Linked DNA regions of Homo sapiens. The protein of the gene in region 2 interacts with the protein of the main gene of each other region in a pairwise test. Each region holds a gene or a part of one and is shown on either strand. Other genes may lie near its edges. The genes, in order: EXOC1, IFT81, HUNK and TRAF3IP1.

The links.
Region 1: the proteins of IFT81 (region 2) and EXOC1 interact in a two-hybrid assay, tested with the Homo sapiens proteins (one large-scale study listed by IntAct).
Region 3: the proteins of IFT81 (region 2) and HUNK interact in a two-hybrid assay, tested with the Homo sapiens proteins (one large-scale study listed by BioGRID and IntAct).
Region 4: the proteins of IFT81 (region 2) and TRAF3IP1 interact in a two-hybrid assay, tested with the Homo sapiens proteins (one large-scale study listed by IntAct).

What each region holds. Positions count from the first base shown.
Region 1 is NC_000004.12:55,872,242-55,880,013, reverse strand, and holds part of EXOC1 (exocyst complex component 1), read right to left. Parts: intron 7,260-7,772; coding exon of another isoform or gene 7,206-7,259; intron 2,098-7,205; coding exon 1,948-2,097; intron 1-1,947.
Region 2 is NC_000012.12:110,136,413-110,144,184, reverse strand, and holds part of IFT81 (intraflagellar transport protein 81 homolog), read right to left. Parts: intron 7,410-7,772; coding exon 7,325-7,409; intron 804-7,324; coding exon 640-803; intron 1-639. UniProt on the Homo sapiens protein: Component of the intraflagellar transport (IFT) complex B: together with IFT74, forms a tubulin-binding module that specifically mediates transport of tubulin within the cilium. Binds tubulin via its CH (calponin-homology)-like region.
Region 3 is NC_000021.9:31,918,910-31,926,681, reverse strand, and holds part of HUNK (hormonally up-regulated neu tumor-associated kinase), read right to left. Parts: intron 2,215-7,772; coding exon 1,922-2,214; intron 1-1,921.
Region 4 is NC_000002.12:238,389,327-238,397,098, reverse strand, and holds part of TRAF3IP1 (TRAF3-interacting protein 1), read right to left. Parts: intron 1-7,772.

The DNA.
Region 1 (7,772 bases), on a different chromosome or scaffold from region 2:
ATAGAAGTTGCTTTTATATTAGCAATTCCAATATTCTCATTCCACAGAGACAAAACATATCATTATTTCCAATTCTAGAACATCTTTTAGGGCCATATTGTCCATATAATTATTATTAATTATTAACACAGCTTATGCATTAGATTTCTTATTTTTAAACTTCATATTCACAAAAACTTACAGATAAAAGATTTTAGATGTTTCTCAGAGTATTTCAGAATTTTAATAAAATGGATCTTCAGCCAGGACTATCTAGAATACTATTAGCTATTTACGTATTTGACTAGATAGGTGGGAATTCGTTAGCTCTATTTTTTTAAAAAGGGATATGATGTCCAATTCCTAAACTAAAGATCAACAGCATAAATGCCAGAAAAGGACTGTCCCTATGGCTTCCTGCTACAATGGCTATTAAATCTAAGTCAGGCCATGTCATTCCATGGCTCAAAGTCTACCATCTCCCCTCCCTACCCTGCAATGTCATGCACAGTAAAAGACAAATCTTTGCATGGTCCACAATCCCTTCCAGATCCACCCTGCCCCCACCAGGGTCTGCCCCTGGCTCACAGTGCTCCTACCACACTGGCCTCCCTGCTCTGCAAGCACAATAGGAACGCTCTGCCTTAGGGCACTTGCACTGTGCCTGGAAAGCTCTCCTCTGGAAATCCTTATCCCACGCCCTTCTCCCAGTCCTGGCATTCCCTGCTTTATTTTCTCTAGAACACTCAGCAGCACCTTTTAACATACTATATAATTAACTTTTTTGTCTGTCTGTCTCCTCTAGAATACGTACTCTGAGAAGGCAAGTATTTGCCTGTTTCCTTCAATGCTGTATCTCTAAGTGCTTACAAGTGTTAGCACGTAATAGGTGCTCAATTCATTTACTGATTGAATATATGAATAAATGACTTTGCTCTTCCCCAAGTGCAGAATTTTAGTCAGCAGTATATACTACTGTTCTAAACTCCAAGCCCAGCAAGTTTGGCATCAACCTGTTCCTTCTGCTGTTGGAGTCTCTCTTTTGGTTTATATTCTCTATCTATTCCCAACACCATCTTCCTGGCTCAACACTTCATTTCGTCTGAATTATTACTTTAGGTTCTTAATTAAATTTCCCTCATTTAATCTTTTCCCATGCTTGAGGAATGCTGGTAGGTCCCATAGCTCATCTTTTTCAACATAATTTCTCACTGCCCTAGAATAGGAAATTTCTGCTTCGGTCACCCTTAACCTCATTGTTCTAGGACAAGCGTGTATTTTTCCCACCTTTGTCTGCACATCTCTCTCCCCATCCCTGGAATGCCCTTTCTCTTATTTCTGGTTTATTTAATTGCACTCATTATTTAAAATCAACTGAAGTCTGATATTGTCCATGAAGTTTCCCCCATGGTCTCGAGACAGAGATTTTCCTTGTCTATACTGCCACATGCTTAAAATTCATTTCCAGTTTAGTGTTTAATTTTTTGCTGATTGTTTTATGTATGATTCTTCCCAGTCAGATCTAAAGCGCATTAGAGTAGATGCTTATTAGGTAGGCCCCAGGTGCCTGGAATAGTGGAATGCTTGCTTAATAAAGAGGCACTTTATATTTCCTTAACAGAACAGATTATAAATCCACAGAGGGCAAATACCTCACTTGCAATGCTCATACTTCCTTGTTTCTATACTGTACATAAAGAAACTCAGGAAATAAGCATAGCATTTAACTAAATTGATGCTTTAGGCTACAGTATGGCTTAATATTTTTCCATACTGAAGTTTAAAATTTAGCTCTCCTTTATCCAAGTTAATAAAATGAATGTTATCACTGGTAAAGAGCACTGACTCATTTTCTGCTTTGCTAAGAATGTACTACAGTATTTTAAACTTGGGGAACTGAACACATGACCTCTTAATTCTAAAAGATAATGCTCTATTCTCAGTGAGTAAATGACGTCAAATCCATACCTTTGTTAGTCCTTCATATTTTCCATAATCTGTACTCTTTAGCCACTCCATCAGCTTGGCATATCGGAGCAAATCTCTATGAAATGGATGATGATTGGGTAAAGTCAGTTCAACAGAGTGTTGGGCAAGAGTCGAACTCTGATCATGACCCTAAAGTGAGTAAAATAAGTAAATAAATGTAATCAACAGTACAAAGAAACGTTACAATAAAAAGTCTAAACAATGACCAAAATGTGGCCAAGCCAAACCAATAAGACATAGAAAAATAATTAAGAATAGAACACAGAAAAATAAAAACCAAATACTTACACAACTTTTATATCCTGTGTATATCAAATGAACATTACCACCATAAGATAATCATAAATACGCAAGAATGGCACTCTGATAAATCAACTACCCATTCCGTCTTTTAAAGGAATGAAGATGGAACGTTTTAATGAAGCTTGTCTCTCTCATACCATATTTCACAATTTACCAAGCAAATGACCTTCTTGATATAGCTTGAATTAAGAAACACAAATAGAGAAATCATTCAAAACAGTCTACATTTATGGTATTCCCATTAGAGTTTGTAATATTTAAAACAACAGATAAAAAAAAGTAGAATATAAAGTCTTAGAGCTTGGAATTGGAACCTTGGTCATCTGAGTCTTACTTCTGTCTTGGAGCAGATTCAAATTGAAAATACAATTTCCCAACAACAAGCAAAAGGCAAACCAAGACAGATTTATTTGATGTAATTTTCACTCAATCTAATTTGCCTAGATAGCCAGAAGTTATTTGTCAGCATTTTGTGAAAACTGTATTAAAATTACACAGACTGCTAGAGTTTTGGAGCTAGTTAACTCATTTCCTGATAAGGTTACCTAAAGCTAATTATGAATGTGTATCATACTAGTTGGTACACATTAGCTAAATAAGCGTCCTGAATTTAAATTCTTTTAAGTTAAAAGGGATTTCTTTCACCTAATTTATATACTGTACTATATACACAAAATAACCTAGTGGTTATGAATTTTAAAAAATTTTCTTTTAAATACAGACTATTCAGAAGGAAACATTTCTGGCCTAGAGGAAATGAGGAGTTCCTTGGTAACTGAGAAAGAAAGATGGGAGTATAAGACATGCCAAGTACAAAAACCCACATCATTATCCATGTCCCTTCTTCATAAATGTTTTCAAATCAGTCTGTTGGAAAATTTTCTTCATGTGAGAATATATCCCAATTTAAAATGGAAATTAAAAAGAAAAAAGGACCCATTATACAGAAATTACATATAAAATGGTAGAAAACAACCAATACACTTCTCAGATTCATCTTACTGATATCTACTTAGGTTAACTTGGGAAACTGAACTAGAGATGGCAGAAAAATATCACAAAATGAAACTGACCAGTTCAAAATAACAAGAACTAGAACACAGGGGCAACAGAAGTTCACAGCTACCACAGATGTTATACACAAGGTATATTAATAGGTCCATAATCCCTTTCTGTAATTCTGACAGCCAAAAAGCTCTGAAAACTCAGACTAAGCTTGGCACCAAAACAATTTTGATGGTAAAATGTGACCTGAACTGACATGGGCCTATTTATAGTGCTTAGAGTGACTATTCATATTTTTTGTTGCAAAAACATGTGCTTGGAGTGATTATATAATATACAGTATATATACTGTATTGCTTTTCTAAAATCTGAAACATTCTAAAAACACTCCTGACCCCCAGAATTCTGGATAACGGAGCGTAGACCTATGTGGATATTCTTTTCTGGGTGGCTACCTGAATATAAAACAATCACATCTTCCAAAAGAATCAATGAGGACTAAGAGCTAAAGTGTTGAAGAATGGAACAATTCTGTATTTTTAGAATGCCTGGGCTACCATATCTTTTCTGTAAGGGCTAACAATAAAGATGAACAAAATCAATAATATTAAGTAAAATACACAGGCATTACCATTGGACTATTATCTATTTCTATGTTGCCAAAGGTCAATATAAACATTCTATTACAGAAATGTTTTCTAACCAAGATGCCAGAAGGATAATCAGGATTCTACAGCATCACATGTATTAGATACTAGCCAGATATAGATATTATAGTTTTAGGTCTATAAATGTCTCCAAATTGTGTTTTATTTTTTAAAAATTTATTTTTATTAATAGAGATGGAGTCTTACTATGCTGCCCAGGTTGCCCCCAAACTCCTGGGCTCAAGTTATTGGCCCACTTCAGCCTCCCAAAGTGCTGGAATTACAGGTGTGAGCCACTGCGCCTGGCCTAAACTATGTGCCTTAATTGGTCACGCTGATTAAAGGGGAAGAATATTTGACAGACTTATATCATACAAATGTTTACCAAATAGTTTTTATTAGTAACAATGTATCGTTATCCAAAACAATCTTCCTCATTAATTTTTCTCAATGATTCAAGACTCAAAATTATTGTCTATGTTCTTCTACTACTGTTTACTCAGGCACAAATGTCAATTAACTTGTTCAAGGTAACCCAGCTAGGAGGTAGGAGAGTCAGGATTTTGAACCCAGGAAGTTTGGCTCTAGTGTCTGCACTCTTAAGCACTTTGCTATAGTGACTTTTTTAAAGAAATGATACATTGGGGTCAAAATTTGAATAAATTTTCAAGATTTGGAACTCCTTCTTTCTGTTATGGCATACTTACTTATTCTTTTCTTAAAAAAAAAATCTGAGCAAAGTTCCAACAAACCTCACAAAAATAGATCTTAATCACAAGTCTTTCTAAGCTTTTAACCAGAGATCATCAATCCGTGTTTACAAATATGCTTAAGGAAACAATTTTTGTAAAAGAAATTGAATGCTGGTGGTCTGCAATACAGGTTTTATTTTATTATAGCTTGTTTCTGTATATGTATGTTGAGAGAAAAATTTCTAAACTTAAGCATATGGTAAAAAGTTCCACAACTTCAGTTTTTTCCTGGTTGTACTTTTAGTTCAGTGCATTTCAGTTTATTTTCATTTTCTCTAAGTTATGTACATAATCAGTCTCATCATGTTGCTAAAGGCAAAAGTAGATAGAATCATGAGGTCTCTGTAGAACCAAAGGGGGAAACAAAAGGCAGAGAGTAGTTATCAAAATAAATCTTTCAAAAAACAACCAAAACAATTTTTTAAAGGACATATTCTTTATGCAAATATTTCCTCAATTTCATTAGCCTTAATTTGACTGTTTTCAATATCATAATCCTAATTAGTGTAAACTGACCAGATTCTCATTCTTGATCTTTCTAGATACAGAAATCCCTAGTAAATGTAAAAATTATGGGCAAGAGCCTATAATTTCAGGGGAAGTTGAGTGTGTAAGATCTGAAAGATCTAAAAGAAGCTAACTACTCTTTATGTAACATTACTCTCATATTATATTACAGTGATTATTATATTAAAATACACTTCAAGTTTCACTTAAGTATAGATAACACAGAAGTATTAATAGGAAAGTTGCATTACAGATAGCATGCTCTGGATCAGTCATTCCCAAATGCAAGATGTTTTTCCTGGCCTATAGCAATAAGAAAAAGTACAATGAAAGAAGTGAGTCCTTCATAAGGGTAAATGTATTAATTTTTAAAATCGGAAAGGAAATTCTTATTCTTTTAGTGCCAAAATGTCATTTTTAAAATGAAAAGATAATGAAAGTGGATAATAGTATTTCTTTTTAAAGGTCTTTATTTGGTAAAATAAAAAAATTGGTGATTTGGTCAGTCTCCGAATTTTATTTCTTTTAATTTTACTAATTTGTGAATTTTAAAAAGACTGAGAATCAATGCTTTGAAATTACTGTTATATTGTGAATAGATTATTTTCACTGGATTCTTCAGTACAATATTTGTAAATGTTGTAACTATACATTTGCTATAAACTGTATTGCATGGACTCGTTCAAGTCCTACCTTATCTGCAATTCCTTCCATATCTCACTCCTTAAATTCTCAATAAACTCACTTTTGATTAAACCTTTTTAGCACTTACAGTCCACAGTTCTACAATTAGCAATTTATTACATACATTGCTAATGTACATTAGTCTTAACTCCTTACAAAGAGTAAGTACATTAGTTTTAATTCCTTCTTACAAGCATCTTGAGGGTAGGAACTATTGCTTATTCTTATATATGGTAGACAGTGAGTACATAATAAGCATACAATGAAAATTCTGTGATTGCCAAAGAGGTGTACCATATTATTTTAATCAATTTTCCCAGCTTGTCTCCCTACCAGGAATAGAAATACCCATGTTTCTCAACAATTTTGCTAGGTGACCTGATGCACTGAATGCAACACTAAGAAAATCTTTCTTATGTGTGGGATATCTTCTTCCACCGTTTTTGGCACACCCCAGGTTGTCGCAGCGTTCTGATTTTTAACATGCATCACTCACATGTAATAACACATATCAGCTTTTCAGAAATGGGAAGCATTCATTTTAAACGAGGCCATTAGTTTACAAGGCAAGAAGCAAAATCATAAATAACTGCATGTTACAACAAACAGTTAAGGGTACAGAAAAGACTATTGTTTACTGGCTGGTATTTTCAATACTATCTAACAAATGTGGATAACATAATTGTCAACAGTGTCATTTTTAAAAACTAAGGAATTGTATAGAAATAGATGTTATTGAAGTAAGTACCTAACAAAAACATGAATTAGTATTTCCTATGTGACATTTAAGCTTACTTTTTTCTCGACACTTTTCAGTCAAGTGGAATGTTAAGGGAATCTCTCTGATTCCCCCCTACCGTGCTTTTAGTTAGGTGGTCTTCCTTTACACTCCCACAGTCTCGCTGTCATAACATTTATCCCTCTTGAGTATATTATTTGTTTGTCTCGCTTCCCTAGACTGTGAACTACTAGAGGACAGGATTGGTCTCTCATTTATCCCAAGTTAATGTCTGGTATGTACCTCAATCACCTGGCAATACTAAATAAATGAAGGATTAATATTACTACTATTACTAAATGAAGGAGTAATATTACTATTTATTACTAAATGGAGTGAAAAAATGACAGAAAGAAAAGCAAGCAGAATGAGATTAAATGCTTTTTTGGCCAAAATAGTCTCTACTATGGGACATTTAAAAACTGCTACGAATGTGGTTAACAGGTAGCTTAAATCAGTAAGTTATAATCTGTAAAGATTCGGCTGCTGTTAAGTTTAGCAAACTTTATAGAAAAAAAAAAACAGAATCAGAGAAGCTTGAGCCAAATTTGATGTACTCACAGGAACCGAAAGAAAGTAGGACCTGTTATAGAGTTGAAGGAGGGCCTGAGTAAACTAATTGGAAATAAAATATAGTAAATACAATTGTTTTAGAATATTGCAAAGTGAAAATAAAGTAAAAATCCATTGTTTTCAGGCAGTATTTCTTGATGAACGAGATATTCCCCCAATTTTTTTTCATTCTATAACTCTAATAAAATAAAAGGGACTTTTAAAAGAGATGAAAAAATAAGAAACCTAATTTATTGTATTAGATATTAAAATGGCTTTTATTCAAATCCCTCAAAGGTACTCTTAATATTATTAATAACAATATTATTACCACACTCTTAATTATAACATCCTTTTCCATATAAAAATATAGGTAAAGCATTTATATGAAGATTAGATCAACTGAAATTTGCAGTTGAGCTAGTCATTTTCTTAACAATTATACTATGTACTAAGTACATAGAACTTACAAAACATTTAAAACACTGAATCAAGTCCTGAGTCTCACCTCAAAATACTGAAAAATAAAACAGGTCCAATAGTAAATATCTAACAAGTTTGGACTTACTTTATAAA
Region 2 (7,772 bases):
AAAAATTAGCCGGGCATGGTGGTTCGTGCCTGTAATCCCAGCTAGTTGGGAGGCTGAGGCTGGATAATCACTTGAACCCAGGAGGCAGAGGTTGCAGTGAGCTGAGAAGATTGTGCCACTGTACTCTAGCCTGGGCAACAGAGCAAGTACTGTCTCAAAAAAAAAAAAAAAAAAAAAGGTATAACCTGATACCAGCTTTCAATAAGCATTACAATATTTAGTAATTCCAAGGCAGGTATACAAGGTTAATAAAAATATTAGCTTTAAATATAAAATTGCTATAATATTTTGCTTGGAAATAAAAATTAATGACAATTAAAATATTTCCAAATTTCCCATCTAAATGCTTACATTATGAAGACATAAACCCACTGGTCAATTCATATGCATTAATTTACATATTTAAGTTACTTCATTTGCTAATCAATTGATTATGTTTTCATAACATCATGTGGATTAAGTAATAGCATAACATTCTATAATTCCTCATAAAGGACAATTCCTCATAAGAGTTGTCAACTCTTAGCACAGGTTAATTTAAGAGTCAATAGTGGGATACTACAGAAAGCAGTTCACATAATTTTATAGGACTGGGGATCAGATAAAATTGAGAGCTATAAAAAGATGATTCTCACTTACTTTAGATTCAAGTTCAAGAAGATCAGAATGGCCCATAGCTGGCTCTGAAACTACTTTTTGTAAAAAATGTAATTCCTTTTTCTTATTTTCTAATTCTTTAGGAAATTTTTCAGTTACCATATATAAATTAAATTTTATCTCCTCCTCTAGCCTCTTCATTAAACCTTTAAAAATAAAATAAATAAATATTCAGCCCAAAAGAGTAGGTACAGTGATATTCTGTATACTATTTTAAATATAAGACCTGGATACGGCATATTTGTTGAAAACAAACTGTATAATATATAGCATAGTACAATAAAAGATTGGCCATTGAAATATTTTATTGTTAATTACAATGAAAATGAAGAAACATAATTTACATGGAAGAATATTTAAATAATTATAGAAAAAGTGCTATTATGACCCTTTCAAATTATAACCTAATTCTTTTATATCCCGCAATACGCAAAAATAACATGTGCTGAGCCAGATACATTGTTGGGTCATATTTTACCTTCTAAGCATTTAAGAGACCCATGAACCAAATGATAACACAAATAAAATCTAACCCAGGTGCTCTTTTATACAGATGATCATGTATTTTTTTTCTTTTGGAATACTTTTAATGCTATATATATACATATGTATTTTTTATTTTTTTGAGATAGGGTCTTGCTCTGTCACCCAGGCTAGAGTGTAGTGGCACTATCTCAGCTCACTGCAACCTAAACCTTCACAGCTCAAGTGATCCTCCCACCTTAGCCTCCTGAGTAGCTGGAAGTAGCTGGCATCACAGGTGTACATCACCACGCCTAGGTAATTTTTGTATTTTTTTTTGTAGAGACGAGGTTTTGCCATGTTGCCCAGGCTGGTCTCTAACTCCTGGGCTTGAGCAGTCACCTGCCTCAGCCTCTCAAAGTGCTGGGATTACAGGTGTGATCCCAGCCTCTCAAAGTTCTGGGATTACACTGTACCCAGAACAATTTATATTTCTATTATAACAGTTCATAAATGATAATTCATTATCATTTGTCAGCTTCAAGCCAATGAAGACATTACTAAAAGCACCACAAGTTAAAATCTAAAAAAGAGTAACAGGCCAGGTGCAGTGGCTCACGCCTGTAATTCCAGCACTTTGGGAGGCCGAGGTGGGTGGATCACCTAGGTCTAGAGTTCGAGAGCAGCCTGGGCAACATGGCAAAACCCTGTCTCTACTAACAATACAAAAATTAGCCGGGCATGGTGGCACATGCCTGTAGTCTCAGCTACTTGGGAGGCTGAGGAACAAGGATCGCTTGAACCTGGGAGGAAGAGGATGCACTGAGCCAAGATCGTGTCACCATCACTGCACTCCAGCCTGGGGGATAGAGGGAGACTCTGTCTCAAAAAAACAAAAGAAAAAAGAAACAAAGTATCTACCTACACATAAATGTTTTAAGTTTTCCATGTTTTGGTATTTTTTATTTTGTAAAGTATTATTAGTTTACAGTTAAGTGGCAATTTATATTTTTAAGATTTTAGTTTTCTTATTTTTGCAGTTGGACAACTATACACACAGATTTTCAGTGAATAACCATCTTGTTTTAAATTCCCAGCCTAGAGAGATTTACAAAGTTTATTTCATATCTTTCCATTTACACATTTACAAATTCTGACTTGAATGTTTTTTGTTTTTTGTTTTAGATGAAATCTTGCTCTGTCACTCAGGCTGGAGTGCAGTGGTGCATTCTGGGTTCACTGCATCCTCTGTCTGCCTCCTGGGTTCAAGCGATTCTCCTGCCTCAGCCTCCTGAGTAGCTGGAATTAGTCGCACACTACCAGCTCGGCTAATTTTTTGTATTTTTAGTAGAGACAGGGTTTCACCATGTTAAGGCCAGGCTGGTCTGCAACTCCTGACCTCAAGTGATCCGCCTGCCTGGGCCTCCCAAAGTGCTGGGATTACATGCGTGAGCCACTTCGTCTGGCCTGGCTCAAATTTTTAACACATGGGCTTTCTGGTTTAAGTAATCTGTGTAATAGATTGCATAATACATCTGGCCCAAAGCATAATACATCTGGCCCAAAGCCTTAAAACTATTTTTAGTTCCATCGTGCTAACCATATATTAACATGTAAAATTTTATTAACTGCAAATTCTAAGTTTTCCATTCATTACTTCACTATTCCTTCTTTTTTCAGGATTAGAGAAAGGAAGAGAAGAGAAAGTGTTTAATAAATCACACTGTAGGCTGGGCGTGGTGTCTCACACCTGTAATCCCAGCACTTTGAGAGGCCAAGGCAGGCGAATCACCTGAGGTTGGGAGTTTGAGACCAGCCTGACCAACATGGAGAAACCCCATCTCTACTAAATATACAAAAAATTAGCCGGGCATGGTGACCCATGCCTGTAATCCCAGCTACTCTGGAGGCTGTAGAGATGCTTGAGGTAGGAGATTCGTTTGAACCCGGGAGGCAGAGGTTGCGGTGAGCCAAGATCATGCCATTGCACTCTAGCCTGGGCAACAAGAGCAAAACTCCGTCTCAGAAAATAAAAAATAGGCCAGGCGTGGTGGCTCATGCCTGTAATCCCAGCACTTTGGGAGGCTGAGGCGGGCGGATCACCTGAGGTCAGGAGTTTGAGACCAGCTTGACCAACATGGAGAAACCCCGTCTCTACTAAAAAAATATACAAAATTAGCCGGGCGTGGTGGCATATGCCTGTAATCCCAGCTACTTGGGAGGCTGAGGCAGGAGAATGGCTTGAACCTGGGAGGCGGAGGTTGCAGTGAGCCAAGATCACGCCATTGCACTCCAGCCTGGGCAACAGGAGTGAAACTCCATCTCAAAAAATAAATAAATAAGTAAATAAACAATAAAAATAAATAAATCACACTGTAATTAGTCAGTCATTCCTATGTGGTTTTCGATTAAATCTACATCCTGACTTCTTTGTCTGTTAGATGACCAGCTTTTCCATCCTCAGGTTCTTAAGTGTACCCCATGTAATTAGAGATGCATGGAATCAAAGACTAAAATGTTTTTAAAGATTTAAAATTCTCAAATAATATTTTCTCTATTTAAAAAAAAGTTTCTAATTCTAGCAAATATAAACTGATTTATAGTGACAGAAAGCAAATCCATGGTTGCCTGGGGAGGGACAGAAAGGCAGAAGGGGGCAAGAGTGAGACATTAAAAAGGGTCAGTGGAAATGTCTGGGGTGATGGATAGGTTTGTGATCTTGATTAAAAGCTGATGGTTTCACCAGTGTATGCGTATGTCAAAAGTAATCAAGGATACACTTTAGGGCATGGGAGGAAAGGGGAAGAGCATTCAGACAAATACTTAATGTGTGCGGAGCTTAAAACCTAGATGACAGGTTGATAGGTGCAGCAAACCACCATGGCACATGTATACTTATGTAGCAAACCTGCATATTCAGCACATGTAACCCAAAACTTAAAGTAAAATTAAAAAAAAAAATTTAATACATTTTAAATATGTGCTACTTATTTATTTATTGAGACAAAGTCTTACTCTGTCACCTAGGCTGGAGTGCAGTGGCACAATCATAGCTCACTTTAACCTCAAACTCTTGGGCTCAAGTGATCTTCCTGCCTCAGGCTCCTGGACAGCTAGGACTATCGGCATGTACCACCATGCCCAGCTAATTTTTTATTTTTTATTTTATTTTATTTTATTTTATTTTATTTTATTTTATATTTTATTTTATTTTATTTATTTTATTTTATTTTATTTTATTTTATTTATTTTATTTTATTTTATTGTATGTATGTATGTATGTGTTTATTTTGAGATGGAGTCTCACTCTGTCGCCCAGGCTGGAGTGCAGTGGCGTGATCTCAGCTCACTGCAAGCTCTGCCTCCCGGGTTCATGCCATTCTCCTGCCTCAGCCTCCTAAGTAGCTGGGACTACAGGCACCCGCCACCATGCCCGGCTAATTTTTTATATTTTTTTAGTAGAGACAGGGTTTCACCATGTTAGCCAGGATGGTCTCGCTCTCCTGACCTTGTGATCCACCCGCCTTGGCCTCCCAAATAATTTTTTATTTTTTGTAGAGATAGATTCTTGCTATGTTGCCCAGGCTGGTCTCAAACTCCTGGGCTCAAGTGATCCTCTTACCTTGGCCTCCCAAAGGAGTATGATTATAGGTGTGAGTCGCTGAACCATACCAAATACATGCAGCTTTTTCTTTTCTTTTTTCCTTTTCTTTTTTTTTTTTTTTTTTTGAGACAGAGTCTCCCTCTGTTGCCCAGGCTGGAGTGCAGTGGCACAATCTCAGTTCACTGCAACTTCCACCTCCTGAGCTCAAGTGATCCTCCCACCTCAGCCTCCCAAAGTAGCTGGACTACAAGCGTGCACCACCACACCTGGCTAATTTTTGTATTTTTTTGTAGAGACAGGGTTTTGCCATGTTGTCCAGGCTGGTCTTGAACTCCTGGGATCAAGTGATCTGCTCGCCTTTGCCTCCTAAAATGTTGGGATTACAGGTGTGAACCACTGCACCAGGGTTTGTGTGGTTTATTATATGTCGATTTTACCTCAATAAAGCTGTTTAAAACATAAAAACCAAGTTTCCATCAAATTTTAAATTACTCTCTTAAAAAATTTAACTTAGACCTTGAAAAATAGTCATATGTTTCTATGAAAAGTTTTAAAAGCATTATCTTTCAAAATCCTGGGTAAATTAAATACAAGGTCACTAAGATGTCAGCAAACTTTTATATTAAAAACCCTTTGAAAACATCTCACTGATCCTACTATAATCAAATGAGTGTCTTCTTTTATGTAATAAATCTCACAAATGTGTGGAGTATAACAATGATTAGCCTCAGCCGGGCCCAGTGGCTTACGCCTATAATCCTAACACTTTGGGAGGCTGAGGCGGGTGGATCACCTGAGGTCGGGAGTTCAAGACCAGCCTGACCAACATGGAGAAACCCCGTCTCTACTAAAAACACAAAAATTAGCTGGGTGTGGTGGCACACACCTGTAATCCCAGCTACTCCAGAGGCTGAGGCAGGAGAATCGCTTGAACCCGGGAGGCGGAGGCTGCGGTGAGCTAAGATTGCACCACTGCACTCCAGCCTGGGCAACAAGAGTGGAACTCCATCTCAAAAAAAAAAAAAAAATGATTAACCTCAGTGAATGTTTTATAATATAGCTGTTACTCTGCAAAAAGACAAATTATACTGTCATACTAAAAGTACTTTTTGTTATTTAAGTAAACATTAGCTTTTGTAAGCCTTTTTTGTTACTGAAAAGTTAGAGCTTATTAAACTAAATACCTGGATCAATTAAATATGTTTAATCTACCCTTTTCCTAGGCTGTGAACAGATCACTTTCCACTTCCCAGAAAGATGTCAACGAAGTAGGAACTCCTTAACCTCCTGCTCCCTGCTCTTGTAGAATTTCATAGATTACTACAGAAAGATGAATTAACCCTCTATCAGCTATTTACATTGGGATAGTTCTCCAGTACAAATGAGAGCTTTCCACTGCTCTTTCAGTTTGCGTGGTCTTTCTTCTGACAAGCAAAAATGCTTTGTAAAATGCCTAGGATGGATCTGGTGGTGTAATCTGGGCTGTTAGGACAGTTTATCCTCTGTGTTAAGCTAATGTAAGAACAGAGCCAGAGATACCTACGTCATTAGCACTGTTATTCTACAAACCAAAATATGAAAAACACTCGGTTTTAAGGATCCAGCATTCTATTCTTTTTCTTTATAGCCCTGGCTTTAAAACAATGATTCATAATTTTTCCAACCATCATTTTCACAACGTCCATGCTAAGTCCTTTATTTATTTATTTATTTATTTATTTTTCTTGAGACAGAGTCTCAGTCTGTCGCCCAGGCTGCAGTACAATGGCGCGATCTCGGCTCACTGCAACCTCTGCCTTCTAGGTTCAAGCAATTCTCCTGCCGCAGCATCCTGAGTAGCTGAGATTATAGGCACATGACATCATGCCCAGCTAATTTTTTTGTACTTTTAGTAGAAACAGGGTTTCACCATGTTGGCCAGGTTGGTCTCGAACTCCTGACCTCAAGTGATCCACCCGCCTCAGCCTCCTAAAGTGCTGGGATTATAAGTGTGAGCTACCACGCCCAGCCATGCTAAGTCCTTTATACAAGCACAAACCAGACAGCCTCCCTCCACAGTTGTTTTCATTATCTTCACTCTCTGATGTGAAAAACTGGTTAGGAATTGTTTGTTGTTGCTGTTAAGATGGAGTCTCGCTCTGTCGCCCAGGCTGGGCTGCAGTGGCGCGGTCTCGGCTCACTGCAACCTCTGCCTCCCAGATTCAAGTGATTCTCCTGCCTCAGCCCCCTGAGTAGCTGGGATTACAGGCACCCACCACCACGCTCTGCTAATTTTTGTATGTTTAGTAGAGATGGGGTTTCGCCATGTTGGCTAGGCTGGTCTCGAACTCCTGACCTCTCGCCACCTCGGGCTCCCAAAGTGCTGGGATTATAGGCATGAGCCACTGCACCCGGCCATCTGGTTAGGAATTTTTAAAAACATCTGGTGAAAACCCAGGGATGTCTTTATCAGGGCTCTCCTTCTCCAGCTAGGAAATGATGTTCCAAAATGCTGAGACATCACTTGATGATAACTAATTCTCACAAATTGATTTTTTAGGAAGATCGTGATTTAAATTAATATTTTCTAATCATCTATACCATATAATAATTTCCACTTACTTTCAGGCTTTGCATCTGCTGCAGCTTGGCGCATGCTTTTCAGCTGGTTTTGTACTCTTTGCAATCTTTGCACTGCATGAAATAGCTTTAAAATACAATTAAATAGATTACTTGCTTAGTCTACTGAAGCTTACCTCTCACTTAGGCAAGCAATGAAAAATACAAGTTCCATATAATTCTTATGATATAAAAGGAACAAATAATAAGAACTCGGAAAATTCCCATATTAAACCCAAAATGTAACTGGTTCTCTCAATACCTTTTCACATACATTTTTTAAGGAAGTTTTCACAAATTTTTCTTTAGTTATTTACTGAATTTGCGGTTTAAGGAAAAATACTTATCAAAGAAACACACACACCAGATTTTTCTTGTTATACATGGTTTTCTTAAGGCCAAGTAATGTTAACATTGATATAGTGATGTTTCAGAATCACAAACCAACGCC
Region 3 (7,772 bases), on a different chromosome or scaffold from region 2:
AGGAGACACTGACACATGCTATAACTTAGACAAACCTGAAAAACATAATGCTACATGACAGAAAGCAATCACAAAAGACCGGGTATTATATAATTCCATTTATATGAAATGGCCAGAATAGGCAAATCCATAGACACGGAAAGTAAATTAGTAGTTGCCAGGGCTGGGGGAAGAGGGAAATGGGGAGTGACTGGTAATGGGTACAGGGTTTCTTTTGCGGGGGGTAATAAAAATATTCTAAAATTAGAAGGTGGTGATGGTTGCACAACTCTGTGAATACACTAAAAAACACTAGATTATACACTTTTAAATGGTGACTTTTATAGTATATAAATTTATTAATTTAAAAATATTTAAACATACATGTGCACACGTGTGTGCATGTTTATATATATACACACACATAAATATGTCATGCCTCAATCTTGCTTTTTAAAATAAGCACCAATTAAAAATGATTTCTATGCCGGGCGTGGTGGCTCACGCCTGTAATCCCAGCACTTCGGGAGGCCGAGGAGGGCGGATCACCTGAGGTCAGGAGTTCAAGACCAGCCTGACCAACATGGAGAAAGCCCATCTCTACTAAAAATAAAAAATTAGCCGGGCGTTGTGGCACATGCCTGTAATCCCAGCTACTAGGGTGGGTGACACAGGAGAATTGCTTGAACCTGGGAAGTGGTTGCAGTGAGCCAAGATTGCGCCATTGCACTCCAGCCTGGGCGACAAAGCGAGACTCAGTCTCAAAAAAAAAAAAAAATATTTCTGGTTGTTCTCAATAACCCAGAGTAATTATTGATCATAATTCCACAAAGGAAGAACCATGCATTTATTGGTGAAGCCAACACTCCCTTGGAGGAAAAGAGGGAGCTTTTATTTCTTTAAATTTGTTTGATTTTATTTTCATACAGTACTAAAAGCAGGCACCCACTACCAATGGCAACATTGCCAAGAACGCTGTTTCCATTCACTTTCTTTGTAGAGCCCCTTCCTAGGAAACAACAGGATATTAAAAACAAGCTTGATTTTCCTAACTATTTGCAAGACTGGTTTGGTTTGTGGAAAACACTCCTTGATTTCAAGGGCAAGTTCAAAATTCGAATGGTGATTCAATTTCATTGAATAAAACTGCTATTGAGTGTCTACTATGTGTAAAGCAAAGACAATGAAAGCACCATCATCCCTAGCACGAATCTCATGCCATTTTAACACTGGCTCTTTCAGGCACCTAAACAACTGGTCTCATGACTATGCAAACAAGAAGAAAAGCAGCTAACACTTACCTGATACCTACTAGGTAACAAACACTGTCCCAAGCTCTTCCCATATATTAACTCATTGACCTTTACTCCAACTGAGAGAGAAGTGTTATTATTATTCCCATTTTACAGATTAAGAGACCAAGGCTCAGAGAGGTTAAGTAACTTGCCCAGGGTCACATAACTGTTACAGGGCAGAGCCAGGTTGCAAGCCCAGTCACTCTGGCTTCAGATTCTACTCTTTTAACCCTCACACTGGCATTAACCCAATTCACAAAACAATTCCATGGAATAAAAATACAGAAAAATTCCCAGCCTGGCCAACATGGTGAAACCCCGTCTCTACTAAAAATACAACAAAGTTAGCCAGGCATTGTGGCAGGTGCCTGTAATCCCAGCTACTTGGGTGGCTGAGGCAGGAAAATCGCTTGAACCCACAAGGCGGAGGTTGCAGTGAGCCATGACTGCGCCATTGCACTCCAGCCTGGGCAACAAGAACAAAACTCCGTCTCAAAAAAATAAACAAATAAATAAAATTAAAATATAGACAAATTGTAAAACAGGCTGCAATTGCTCAGCCTTTCTCAGAGGCTCAGAGGGTGCCACAGCCCAGTGCCACCCACGGAGCACACAGTCAGCGATCACCAGCGTGGCCTGGCCCTTACCTGTGGACCACCCCGGCCCGGTGCAGGTGCTCTACGGCAGAGATGAGCTGTCGGATGTATCTGCGGGCTTCGGACTCCTCCAGCCGCTTCTTCTCATAGATCTTGTGCATCAGGTTGCCCCCAGGGCACAGCTCCATGACCAGGTAGTAGCTGTTTTCCGTTTCTAAAATATCAAGGAGCTGAGTGATATTGGGGTGGCGGATCATCTGCTGGATCTGACCCTCTCGCCGCAGGTTTTTGGTGACATAGGTGTCCTTTTTGGCTCTCTTCTTATCAATGACTTTTATGGCCACCTAAGGAGAAAACAAGAACATGCCTGTTATCAGACATTACAGACAATAGCGATGCCTTGGCTACTCACAGGAACCCAAGAAAAATGCTAGCTATGTCTCTGCAGAGGAGAAACACCTTACCTAAAACAGCATCAACAGAAAATATATATATACACATTTATATTTATGCATATACCACACAAACACACACACACACACACATATAGGTACAACATTAGGAAAAATCAAAAGGTCCAATTATTAAGGAAGACAATGGAATTTACCTAAGAAAACCTGAATGGCTGTCTGGAAGGCACAGTGCAGGATTAATGTCAAATTTATTTTTCTACAGGATGGGAAGATGAAATAACAATTTCTCTTCCAGCAAAGGGCTTGTCCCAGTCCCCCTCAGGACTCACCATCATCTCCCTCCAGGTCTGAGGACCCCCAGCCACTTCAGAAACAGCTAAATCTTCCCCCAATCTTAGTTCCAAGGCATGGTTGGGGGACACTGCCCAAAGATGCAGCACCCCTAGCCTTGCCCGCCCCCGCTCCGCCCTGCCCTGTGCACACCCTCAAGCCTCAGGGTCTACCTCCTTCCCTTGATGAATTGCCTCCTAGGGAAACTTGGCCCCCACTGTCAGGACCCAACCTTTGTTGTTACTCAGGATCACATTTCTACTACCCTCAGGAAGCTCCTCCTGGGCCATTGCCCCTACAATCAACTTGTCATAAGAGGTACGGTGGGAGGGAGGGAAGAACAGAAGGAAGGATGGAGGAACAGAGGGAAGGGAAGATTGTCTATTCCACCCAAATCCGCATCTGTCCCCAGTCCTCTTTCCTTTAGGGGAAGTCACCTCTCCATTGTATTCACCCTTTTCCTTCCCTTCCCTCCCTCCCTCCCTCCCTCCCTCGCTTCCTTCCTTCCTTCCTTCTTTCCTTCCTTCCTTCCTCCCTCCCTTCCTCCCTCCTTCCCTCTCTCCCTCCCCTTCCTCTTTCCTTCCTTCCTTTCTTTCTTCTTCTATCTCTCTCTTTTTCTCTTTCTTTCCTTCTTGACAGAGTCTCTCTGTTGCCCAGGCTGGAGTACATGGTGCAATCATGGCTCACTGAAGCCTCAAACTCCTGGGCTTAAGTGATCCTCCCACCTCAGCCTCCCAGGAGCTGGGACTATAAGCACACACCACCACGGCTGGCTAATTTTTTTCTTTTTGTAGAGACCGATCTCCCCATGTGGCCCAGGCTGGTCTTGAACTCCTGGCTTCCAGTGATTCTCCTTGTCAGCCTCCCAAAGCACCGGCGTCAAAGGCGTGAGTCACCACGCCGGCTGCCCTGTTCCTTCTTTTTTCTTCACTCCCCTCTCTAATGTGATCAGCCACTGACGTCAACACATGATGTCAATGTCTTCTTCCAGCTGTCTCGCCACCTGTCCTTCCTCTCTGTTCCCCTACACCACCCGCCTGGTTCATTCCAACCACTGCCCCAGTGCCCAGATGCCCTGTCATGAACTGAGACATGAGCATCCCAGGAACACCTTCATACACAGCTATGGAGCCTCCGGGTGCAGGATGAAGTCAGTGGACCTTCCATTTCTTGTTATTTCTCTTTTTTGTAATTACATTTTGTACCTGTTTCACAACGCACTCAATATGCATTATATGCAATATGCCATACACAGAGGTACAAGTACAGAAATAAATAATAAGTAAATAAATACAGATGAATACATGTTTTCAGTGAGGGGCTCAAATATTATTTTGTGGACATAGTTCATGATAAAGAAAAAAACAGAAGTCTGAGATCCAATGTACAGCATGGTGACCAGGCTTAACAATAATGTATTGCACACTTGAAAACTGCTAAGAGGCCGGGCGTGGTGGCTCGTGCCTGTAATCCCAACACTTTGGGAGGCCGAGGAGGGTGAATTACTTGAGGTCAGGAGTTCAAGACCAGCCCGGCCAACATGGTGAAACCCTGTCTCTACTAAAAACACAAAAATTAGATGGGCGTGGTGGTGGATGCCTGGAATCCCAGCTACTCGGGAGGCTTAGGCAGGAGAATCGCTTGAACCCAGGAGGTAGAAGTTGCAGTGAGCCAAGATTGTGCCATTGCACTCCAGACTGGGCAACAAGAACAAAACTCCGTCTCAAAAAAAAAGAAAGAAAACTGCTAAGAGGCTGGGCACGGTGGCTTGTGCCTGTAATCCCAGCACTTTGGGAGGCCAAGGCGGGTGGATCACTTGAGGTCAGGGGTTCGAGACCAGTCTGGCCAACATGGCGAAACCCTGTCTCTACTAAAAATATAAAAATTAGCTGGGTGTGGTGGTGGACGCCTGGAATCCCAGCTACTCAGGAGGCTGAGGCAGGAGAATCGCTTGAACCTGGGAGGTAGAGGTTGCAGTGAGCAGAGATTGTGCCATTGCACTCCAGCCTGGGCAACAAGAACAAAACTCCATCTCAAAAAAAAAGAAAGAAAATTGCTGAGAGATTTTTTAATGTTCTCAAGACACACACAAAACTGATAACCCTGTCAGGTAATGGACATGTCCATGAGCTTGACCATGGTAACCATTTCACAACATGCTCACTTATCATAACCTGCATACTATAAGCACACGCGGTTATCTGTCAGTTAAACCTCAATAAAGCTGAAGAAAACCTTAAAAAACAAAAAGAAAACAAAAAAGGGAAAAAGTCCAAACTAAAGGCAAACTTTAAATTAAACAAAATAGTGAACGAATCAATAAAAGTCTGGCCACCCCCAGGGTGAACTAAGGCATGGATGTCACCTCTTCTTGAGGCTCCTCCTGGCCTCTTGAATTCATTCTACACTCTGCCTCCAAATCAGTGGGTCTAGAACTCTGATTTCTTGCAGAAGCTCTTGAGGTCTCACTGCTGCCTATGGGAGCACCCAAGCATCTTCTCCATCAGCCCCACCACCACCCGGTCCCAACTCCTCCCAGCTCTCCCTCCTGGCATGTCTTGTCACTCCCTGGGACATGCATTCTATCACTCTCCAGGTACTCCAGCCACCCCCTTCCCCCACTCAAGCCCCCAACCCCAGGTCCTTCAGAGGCTAACCTCCCTACCAGAGAGACTCCCCCGCACCTTCCTTCCCTACGTCCCTATACAACAGCATCTGCAGTAAGATGTAAGTCATGGCTTAATGCAGGGACCACTCCCCCTTCACGACACACAGCGCTTCATAAACAGCAAGTGACTAATAGTGACTAACCAATGGAATCACCAAAGCAAAGATGGCTATAAACAGCATAATGTATTATCTCCTCTATAGAGCAGTGTCTCCTTCTTTTTTTTTTTTTTTTTTTTTTTTTTTTGAGATGGAATCTCGCTCTGTGGCCCAGGCTGGAATGCAGTGGCACAATCTTGGCGGCTCCCTGCAACCTCTGCCTCCCGGGTTCAAGCAATTCTCCTGCCTCAGCCTCCTGAGTAGCTGGGATTACAGGCACCCGCCACCACATCCAGCTAATTTTTGTATTTTTAGTAGAGACAGGGTTTGGCCATGTTGGCCAGGCTAGTCTCAAACTCCTGGCCTCAAGTGATCCGCCCACCTTGGCCTCCCCAAGTGCGGGGATTATAGGAATGAGCCACCGTGCCCAGCCCAGAGTCTCATTTTAATAGGGAGGTTCAGGCCCTTAATCCAAAGATGGGAGTAACAAAGAGTCAATCAGCCCCCAAGGGGACCAGACAGGCTAGAAGAGCCCCTGCCATCCACACCTCACAGCATGGGGCCTGCACTACCTCAAGTCAGCTCGGGCTGATGCTCTCAGCCCCCAGGAGGTAAAGTTACACTCTGGCTGTGTCTGGCCCCAAGTAGTTCAAGGGATGCTAAACTAACAGCTTTGTTAACTGTTACCCTCCAAAAACACATAGACACACACATATTTCATATCCATCCTCTTGGGGAGGTGGAGAAAAAAGAATGCTGAAAAGTACAATTAGGCATTGTCTTTGCTCCACTCCGTGTGGCAGTATCTAAAAAATTACACCCTCTGGCAATGAAATTCTTACAAGTACTGTAAACAAACAAGTCTAAAGGCCCAGCAGTAATACAATCTGCCTTTTTAACAGAGTACACAATTATAGTTAAGATACCTTATTGAGTTCTTCAATTGCCTGTACCAGGTTGAATAATGGCCTAATCTCTGGATCATGTGACTTTATTTGGAAAAAGGGTCTTTGCAGAAGTTATTAAGTGAAGAATTCTGAGATGAGATTAGCCTAGATTACCTGGGTAGGCCCTAAATGTCCTCATAAGTGTCCTTATAAAATAGAGAAAGAAGGAGTTTTCACACAAATAAGCAGAGGGGGCAGCCACAGGAGGAAGGAGGCAGACATTGGGGTGAGGGGCGACAAGCCAAGGAATGTTGGCTGCCACTGGAAGCCAGAAGAGGCAGGGAAGGATCCTCCCCTAGAGTCTCTGGAGGGAGCGTGGCCCTGCCAATACTTTTTAAGACTTCTGGCCTCCAGAACTGTGAGAGAATCAATTTGTTACTTTAAGCCACCAGAGTGGTAATTTGTTATAGCAGCCACAAGGAACAAATAGCTTCCCTGAAAATATAAGGAATCTATCTGATGCCCTTTGGGACGCATTTCCAGGCATGGAGAGACCCTCCTTGGCAGTGGGGAATGACGCCACCTTTCACCGGCAGCCTCTCTCTCCTCCTCACTCTAGCCCTTCAGCGTAGTCTCAGGAGCCTCTGACAATTCCTCATTGACTCCACCGTCCCCTCTGCTCCCGCACGTCCATGAGACCCACGGAGAGCAGAGTCTTCACGAACTCCCTCTCAGGCTCCACTCCCAGGGCTGAACCAGCCCATATCAGGGTTTTGCACCTCCATGAGCTATGTCAAAATAGGACCCTATGAAGCTCCACAATTGGTTAGCAAGTGTCTACACTGCAGACCACTCTGAACAGAAAGGACAGCCCAGGTGGCTCTTTCCATGAATCTAGACCTCATTATCACAGCCGTACGATTACAGTCATCCTAACAATTGGTGTTGGTTCCCACATGCCAGGCTTAAGGGTGCATGCTAGGCTTTTCTTTAGGCAGTTCTTCCTGTACCTTCCAACTTCTGTGCAAATGCAGTATTTCCAAGCATTTCTCCCCACTCTCTCACTTCTTGCTCTTTCTCTAGCCCATCCTCCTCCCTTTCCTGAAGGTGAAAGGACAAGGCAATGAGGTGATCTATGGTGCTGGGGAAATACCCCCTGGAAACCCCATCCAGCCCCTCATCCTCATACCACTCATTCCAGCCCCTCCTCCTCATACCGCTCAGTCCAGCCCCTCAACCTCATACCGCTCAGTCCAGCCCCTCCTCCTCATACCGCTCAGTCCAGCCCCTCATCCTCATACCGCTCAGTCCAGCCCCTCCTCCTCATACCGCTCAGTCCAGCCCCTCATCCTCATACCGCTCAGTCCAGCCCCTCCTCCTCATACCGCTCAGTCCAGCCCCTCCTCCTCATACCGCTCAGTCCAGCCCCTCCTCCTCATACCGCTCAGTCCAGCCCCTCAACCTCATACCACTCAGTCCAGCCCAGGCCTTGGGCCGTCGTACCAA
Region 4 (7,772 bases), on a different chromosome or scaffold from region 2:
GACATGGAAGATTTTTCCCAAATGGACTGGCAGAATGAGGGCCTGACCCTACAGCTCTTCAAATGGCCCACCTTCCATCCCAAATGACTTCAAAACCCAGCTTGCCAGGGGGCAAGGGGAAAGAAACCCAAAGGAGAGGCAGAAACTGGTGCCATGGAAAGGAGGGCATGGAGAATGTGCAGGGCAGCCAGCGCCAGCAGCAGCCAGCAGCAGCCAGCAGCACCCAGCAGGCAGATGGTCAGGTCGACTTAGACGTGACTGTGCTGGCCGCTCAGGGAGGCCACAGAGTCCAGGGGTCAGGGGCCAGATGGAAGGGGTCAAGTTGAGACAGCAGCAGGTGAAGGAGGTGAGGAGGACGCAGAGACGAGTGGGGAGCTGCATGCGGTTTGGGCCAGGAGTTCTTGGGTTCTTTGCCATGCAACATTTAGAATTCTCTTCATATGAGCTTTGATCACAGACATCTCTGAATGTCAGAAACTGATGTGAGTTGATAAGAATCAATAAGCTTGGGAAAATTAACATCAGTTCTTTCTCCTTCTTTCCTTTTTTTTTTTAATTTTTTTATTATTATTATACTTTAAGTTTTAGGGTACATGTACACAATGTGCAGGTTTGTTACATATGTATACATGTGCCATGTTGGTGTGCTGCACCCATTAACTCGTCATTTAACATTAGGTATATCTCCTAATGCTATCCCTCCCCCCTCCCCCCACCCCACAACAGGCCCCGGATTGTGATGTTCCCCTTCCTGTGTCCATGTGTTCTCATTGTTCAATTCCCACCTATGAGTGAGAACATGCAGTGTTTGGTTTTTTGTCCTTGCGACAGTTTGCTGAGAATGATGGTTTCTAGTTTCATCCATGTCCCTACAAAGGACATGAACTCATCATTTTTAATGGCTGCATAGTATTCCATGGTGTATATATGCCACATTTTCTTAATCCAGTCTATCGTTGTTGGACATTTGGGTTGGTTCCAAGTCTTTGCTATTGTGAATAGTGCCGCAATAAACATACGTGTGCATGTATCTTTATAGCAGCATGATTTATAATCCTTTGGGTATATACCCAGTAATGGGATGGCTGGGTCAAATGGTATTTCTAGTTCTAGATCCCTGAGGAATCGCCACACTGACTTCCCCAATGGTTGAACTAGTTTACAGTCCCACCAACAGTGTAAAAGTGTTCCTATTTCTCCACATCCTCTCCAGCACCTGTTGTTTCCTGATTTTTTAATGATCGCCATTCTAACTGGTGTGAGATGGTATCTCATTGTGGTTTTGATTTGCATATCTCTGATGGCCAGTGATGATAAGCATTTTTTCATGTGTTTTTTGGCTGCGTAAATGTCTTCTTTTGAGAAGTGTGTGTTCATATCCTTTGCCCACTTTTTGATGGGGTTGTTTTTTTTTTGTAAATTTGTTTGAGTTCATTGTAGATTCTGGATATTAGCCCTTTGTCAGATGAGAAGGTTGCGAAAATTTTCTCTAATTTTGTAGGTTGCCTGTTCACCCTGATGGTAGTTTCTTTTGCTGTGCAGAAGCTCTTTAGTTTAATTAGATCCCATTTGTCAATTTTGGCTTTTGTTGCCATTGCTTTTGGTGTTTTAGACATGAAGTCCTTGCCCATGTCTATGTCCTGAATGGTATTGCCTAGGTTTTCTTCTAGGGTTTTTATGGTTTTAGGTCTAACATGTAGTCTTTAATCCATTTTGAATTGATTTTTGTATAAGGTGTAAGGAAGGGATCCAATTTCAGCTTTCTACATATGGCTAGCCAGTTTTCCCAGCACCATTTATTAAATAGGGAAACATTTCCCCATTGCTTGTTTTTGTCAGGTTTGTCAAAGATCAGATGGTTATCTTCTTCCCTTTCTTTCTTCTCTCTCTCTTTCTTTACAGCCAGGGTCTCACTATGTTGCCCAGGCTACTCTCAAACTCCTGGGCTCAAGTGATCCTCCTGCCTTGCCCTCCCAAAGCGCTGGGATTACAGATGTAAGCCATCATGCCCTGCAACACTGTTTCTTTAGGAAGCCCTCCCTGGACACCCCCCCACCCACTCCAGACCGGTAAGGGGCCCTTCCTTGCCTCACCCACTTACAGAATGAGCTAGTAAATGCACTCAGTTGTAACAAATCAACTTATTTAATTTGAACGTATCATAGCTACATATTCACTTGCATTACTTCTGCTAGTTTCAGACTGTGGGCTCAGGAGGGCAGGACCTTGTGCCTAGATTCACTGTGATTCACATAAGCTCTGCCTAAGAATTTGTGAAATGAACTAATGAAGTGGATAAATGATTTATGTATGAAGATCCTAGTTCCACCATTTACTGGCTTGGACAAGTACAAGAAAGCTTTAGCATAATGCCTGGCACATAGAAAGTGTTAAATAATTGGGACTTTAAGTAAAACGTAAAACTCATACAACTAATAAGTGAGTTCAGCAAGGTTGTAGTATACAAGATGAGCATATGAAAATCAACTATATTTCTATGTATGAGCAATGAAAACATGGACACTGCAATTAAAAATACAATGCCATTGACAATTGTTCAATAGAAGACTATCCTTAGTTGTAAATCTAACAAAACATGTATAGGACTTGGAAATGGAAAACGAAACAATGCAGATGAAAGAAATCAAAGGAAATCTAAATAAATGAGAAGACACACTGTGTCCATGGAATGGAAGACAGGACACAGTAAAGACATGAATTTTCCCCAAACCGATACGCATGTTTAATGCAAATCCTACCAAACTTGCAGCCAATGTTTTTGTATAGACAAGATTATCCTAAAATGTATACAGAAAGGCAAAGGAACTACAATAGCTAAAACATTTTCAGAAAAAGAATAAAGACAGAAATAACCAGTCTACCCAATTTCAAGGCTTTTTTTTGAAACGGAGTCTCACTCTGTCGCCCAGGCTGGAGTGCAGTTGTGTGATCTTGGCTCATTGCAACCTCTGCCTCCCAGATTCAAGCGATTCTCCTGCCTCGGCCTCCCAAGTAGCTGGGATCACAGGCGCACACCAGCATGCCCAGCTAATTTTTGTTTTAGTAGACATGGGATTTCACCATGTTGGCCAGGTTGGTGTCAAACTCCTGAGCTAAGGTGATCCTCCCATCTCGGCCTCCCAAAGTGCTGGGATTACAGGTGTGAGCCACCGCGTAGGCTTCAAGTCTTTTTATACAATTACAGTAATCAAGACAGTGCAGTATTGACAGAGGGACATAGATCAAATGAACAGAACACAGAATCCAAAAGTAGATCCATACGAATATGTCCATATGCCCAAGCAATCTTTGACAAAGGTACAAAAGCAATTTAGTGGCAGAGAGAGCTTTGCACCATTTGGCACTGGGTTAAGTGGACATCCATAAGCCAAAAAACAAACAAAACGTTGACCTAATCTCATATCTTAAACAAAAATTAACTCGAAATGGACTATGGATTTAAATATAATCTATAAAACTTTAAGATAAAAAACACAGGAGGAAAAAGTCTTTGGGATCTAGGACTAGGCAAAGAGTTCGAAGACTTGACACCAAAAGCATGACAAAAATTTCAAATGTTTGCTCTGCGAAAGACCCTGGGAAGAAGCCGCAAAGGTAAGTCACAGAATGAGCAAAAACAACTGCAAATCACACATCCAATAAAGGACTTATAGCTAGAATATGCAAAGAACTCTTAAAACACAACAGCAAGAAAGCAAATAATTCAATTAGAAAATGGGCAAAAGACACATTTCACTGAAGAAGATATAAGGATGGCCAACACACACATGAAAATATGTTTGAAATCATTAGGCATTAGGGAAATGCGAATTCAAACCACAATGAGCCATCACCACACAACAATCAGAATGGCTAAAATAAAAAATAGTGACAACACCAAATGCTGGTTAGGGAAAACTGGATCACTCATTGCTGACAGGAATGTAAAAAGATATGGCCACTCTGGAACACAGTTTGGCAGTTTCCTATAAAACTAAACATGCAACTACAGTATCAACCAACAGTTGTACTCCTGGACACTTATCCAAACAAATGAAAATTCATGTTTATAGAAAAACCTGTATACAAATGCATGCGGATGCTTTAATCAAAGTAGCCACAAACTGGAAACAACCCCCGTGTCCTTCGATAGGTAATTGGTTAACTAAACTGTGGTGCATCCACACCAGGGAAAACTATCTACCAATAAAAAGGAACAGACTGGCCAGGCATGGTGGCTCATGCCTGCAATCCCAGCACTTTGGGAGGCTGAGGCAGGCAGATCACCTGAGGTCAGGAGTTCGAGACCAGCCTGACCAACATGGCAAAACCCCATCTATACTAAAAATACAAAGTTAGCTGGGCGCGGTGGCGCATGCCTGTAATCCCAGCTACTCGGGAGGCTGAGGCAGAAGAATCCCTTGAACCCGGGTGGGGGGGCGAGGTTGCAGTGAGCCGAGATCACGCCATTGCACTCCAGCCTGGGCAACAAGAGCAAAACTCCGTCTCAAGAAAAAAAAAAAAGGAACAGACTGCTAATCCATGGAACAAACTGGATGGCCCTCAGAGGATTAGGAATAAGAAAAGTGAATCCCAAGAGGTTACATGCTGTAGGATTCCTTTTACACAAGATTCTGGAAAGACAAAGTTACAGAAATGGAGAACTGATGGTGGTAGCTGGGGGTGAAGGAAGAGTTCGAGGTGGGGGAAGAGGGTGTGGCTATAAAAAGGCAACAAGAGGGATCTTTGAGGTGATACAAATGTTCTGGATCCTGTTTCATTGTCAATATCCTGGTTGACAATGTACTATGGTTCTGTAAGATGTTATCACTGGGGGAAAGTGGGCAAAAGGCATACAGTATATCTCTATTATTTCTTTTTCTACTATTTTTTCTTTACAGGGTTTCACTGTGTTGCCCAGGCTGAACGCAAACTCCTGGGCTCAAGCGATTCTCCTGCCTCAGCCTGCCAAAGTAGCTGGGGCTACAGGCACGTGCCACCACACCTGGGCGTCTATTATTTCTTATAACTGGATATGAATCTATGGTTATATCAAACGTTTAATTTCTAAAAGGCTATATAAAATGCCTTTAAATTAAGACGCTAAATGACTGAAATGAATTCAATAAAATAAGCTACTTCCCAAGAGAAAAATATATTGTCTTTATTATACACAAATTAGTAAATGTCTCATTGACTTAGTTAAGAAATTCAAACTTCTATTAAAACCCATTCATAATGACTATCAAGTAATTCCTGTGCATTTGGCATCGTGTTAACTCTAATATAAAAATGTTTAGGGCATGGACCTTAAGGTAGGAGACTAATATAAACAAATATCTTACAAAATTGGAGAGTTACAATGTAGAAAAAGACACTAAGAGGTAATCTGGCCAAACTCCTCATATTTCTATTGCACAGGACCAAGCAGAATTTGGAACACTAATCTTAAAGCTTATAATTTATGTTTAAGAGATTAAGACTTTAAAATAAGTACACTTGGGCTGGGATTGTGATAGTCAGGACAGGTTTTATTATTAGCATAAAGGCACTGGAATACATTGCTGCAAAACACCAACACTCTGGCAATTTTCAAGCTTTCATTTAACACAGCAGGGGCAGCGTGAACGCATCAAGCCGTGATTATTTGCTTTAAAAAGCACACCTCTCTGATGACAGACCTCGAGTTATATGTTGCTCATGTAGATATATCAACAATTTTCCAGATAAAAACAACCTTGTTTTTAAAGACTTTTAATCCAATAGTAGTTTGAGGATCTATTACCCCCACACAGGAATTAGATGACTGCCCCTGCTGTGTTAATTATTGAAAATCTGTCATGGCTGGGTGTGTTGGCTCATGCCGGTAATCCCAGCAATTTGGGAGGCTGAGGTGGGCAGATCACTTGAGGCCAGAAATTTGAGACCAGCCTGGCCAACATGGTGAAACCCTGCCTCTACAAAAAAAATACAAAAATTACCAAGGCGTGGTGGTGCACACCTGTAGTCCCAGCTCCTCAGGAGGCTAAGCAGGGAGGATTGCCTGAGCCCAGGAGGAGAAGGTTGCAGTGAGCCAAGACTGTGCCACTGTACTCCAGCCTGGGCAACAGAGCGAAACCCTTTTTTCTCAAAAAAGAAAAAAGAAAAGAAAAGGAAAGGAAATCTGTCATTACACAAAATATGACCTAAAACCACCTAGACCATAGGAGGATTCGGGGGCAGCAGGACCCGCAGTCAGTGCCTTGTGGTTCCAGGGGCTGGTACAACCCAGCCTCACCACCTCCTAACTTTATGACCTTGGAATGACCTCTCTGTACCTCAGCTTCCTCACAAGAAAATGGAAATAATAATATTTATCCTTCAGGTAACATTAAATGGGATAATATAAAGTAAGCAGTTCAGTGCCTCACACATAGTAAACCCTCAAGTAGATGTTAACCATTATCGTAAATTTATTCCCCAGAAAGAAGCAAGTTGCAAGTGCCCCCAGGACAAGGCATGGGTGCTTTTTCCTGTGCACTGATACAGTTATTTTACCTCCTGTCAACTTGTTGGCTATGAAACATTCTTAGCCAGGCATGTTTGGAATACTTTAGCGCACAGTGAAAAAAGTATTTATAGATATTATCAGCACCACCTAACAAGCTGTCATGTCCAGGCAAGTTCTTTCATTAAAATGTAATTTACCTTCCTCATCGACACACTTCCTTCTCCATCTCCATTTTAAGAATATAAATAACCCACAGCTATGAAATTCATCTCAAAGCTCTTTTCTCCGCTGAAAGGTTGGTGATCCTGAGCTCAGAGGAAGTCTGCTGTGAACATCGCAGAACCACCCACGGCACCTTTTTGTGGCACCCTCACCATGGATCCAGTGTCTAAAGGCAGTTTCTCCAAGTTAGGCAAACAGAGAGGTGGCAGCCCACGTGTGTTTCAAGGGGACACAAAGTCACCCCTCTTGTCCCCTCCTGCCTCCTACCTGGCTGGCCTCCCTTTTCCTGCGGGCTAAAGACTGTTTACTCAGCTGCCTTCTGGCAGGAAGGCCTCTGGCAAGGCAGCTCAGCGTTGGGCCACTTCATGTGCTCACGTGCGCACACACTTTTCAGAAAATGCTTCCAAGATTTCTCAAGCGAACAGTTATTTCTGGGACTATTTTATTTGCATTTTACCACACACACACTTGTCCTCAGAAACATGGGCATTTGCACTTCTAGTGATTTTTAAATTTATAGTTATTGATTATAAGTCATATAAATACACATTATTGACCTTAGAGATTTATTTGAATTTCAACTGCAATCCTTCAAGAGAATTATTACTATTATTATTATTATTATTATTATTATTATTTGAGATGGAGTCTCACTCTGTCACCCAGGCTGGAGTACAGTGGTGCAATCTCAGCTCATTGCAACCTCCACCTCCCAGGTTCAAGAGATTCTTCTGCCTCAGCCTCCCAAGTAGTTGAGATTACAGGTGCCTGCTACCACATCTGGCTAATTTCTGTATTTTTAGTAGAGATGGGGTTTCACCATGTTGGTCAGGCTGGTCTTGAACTCCTGACCTCAAGTGATCTACCCACCTTGGCCTCCCAAAGTGCTGGGATTACAGATGTGAGCCACTGCACCCGGCCAAAAGTATTATTTTTAAAATATCTTAAAATAAAATTTAAAAAATGAAGATGGAAATAATAGACACTGAGTACTCCAAAATGCGGGAGGGTTGGGAGGGGGAGGGTTGAAAAATTACCCACTGGGTGCAACATTCACTAC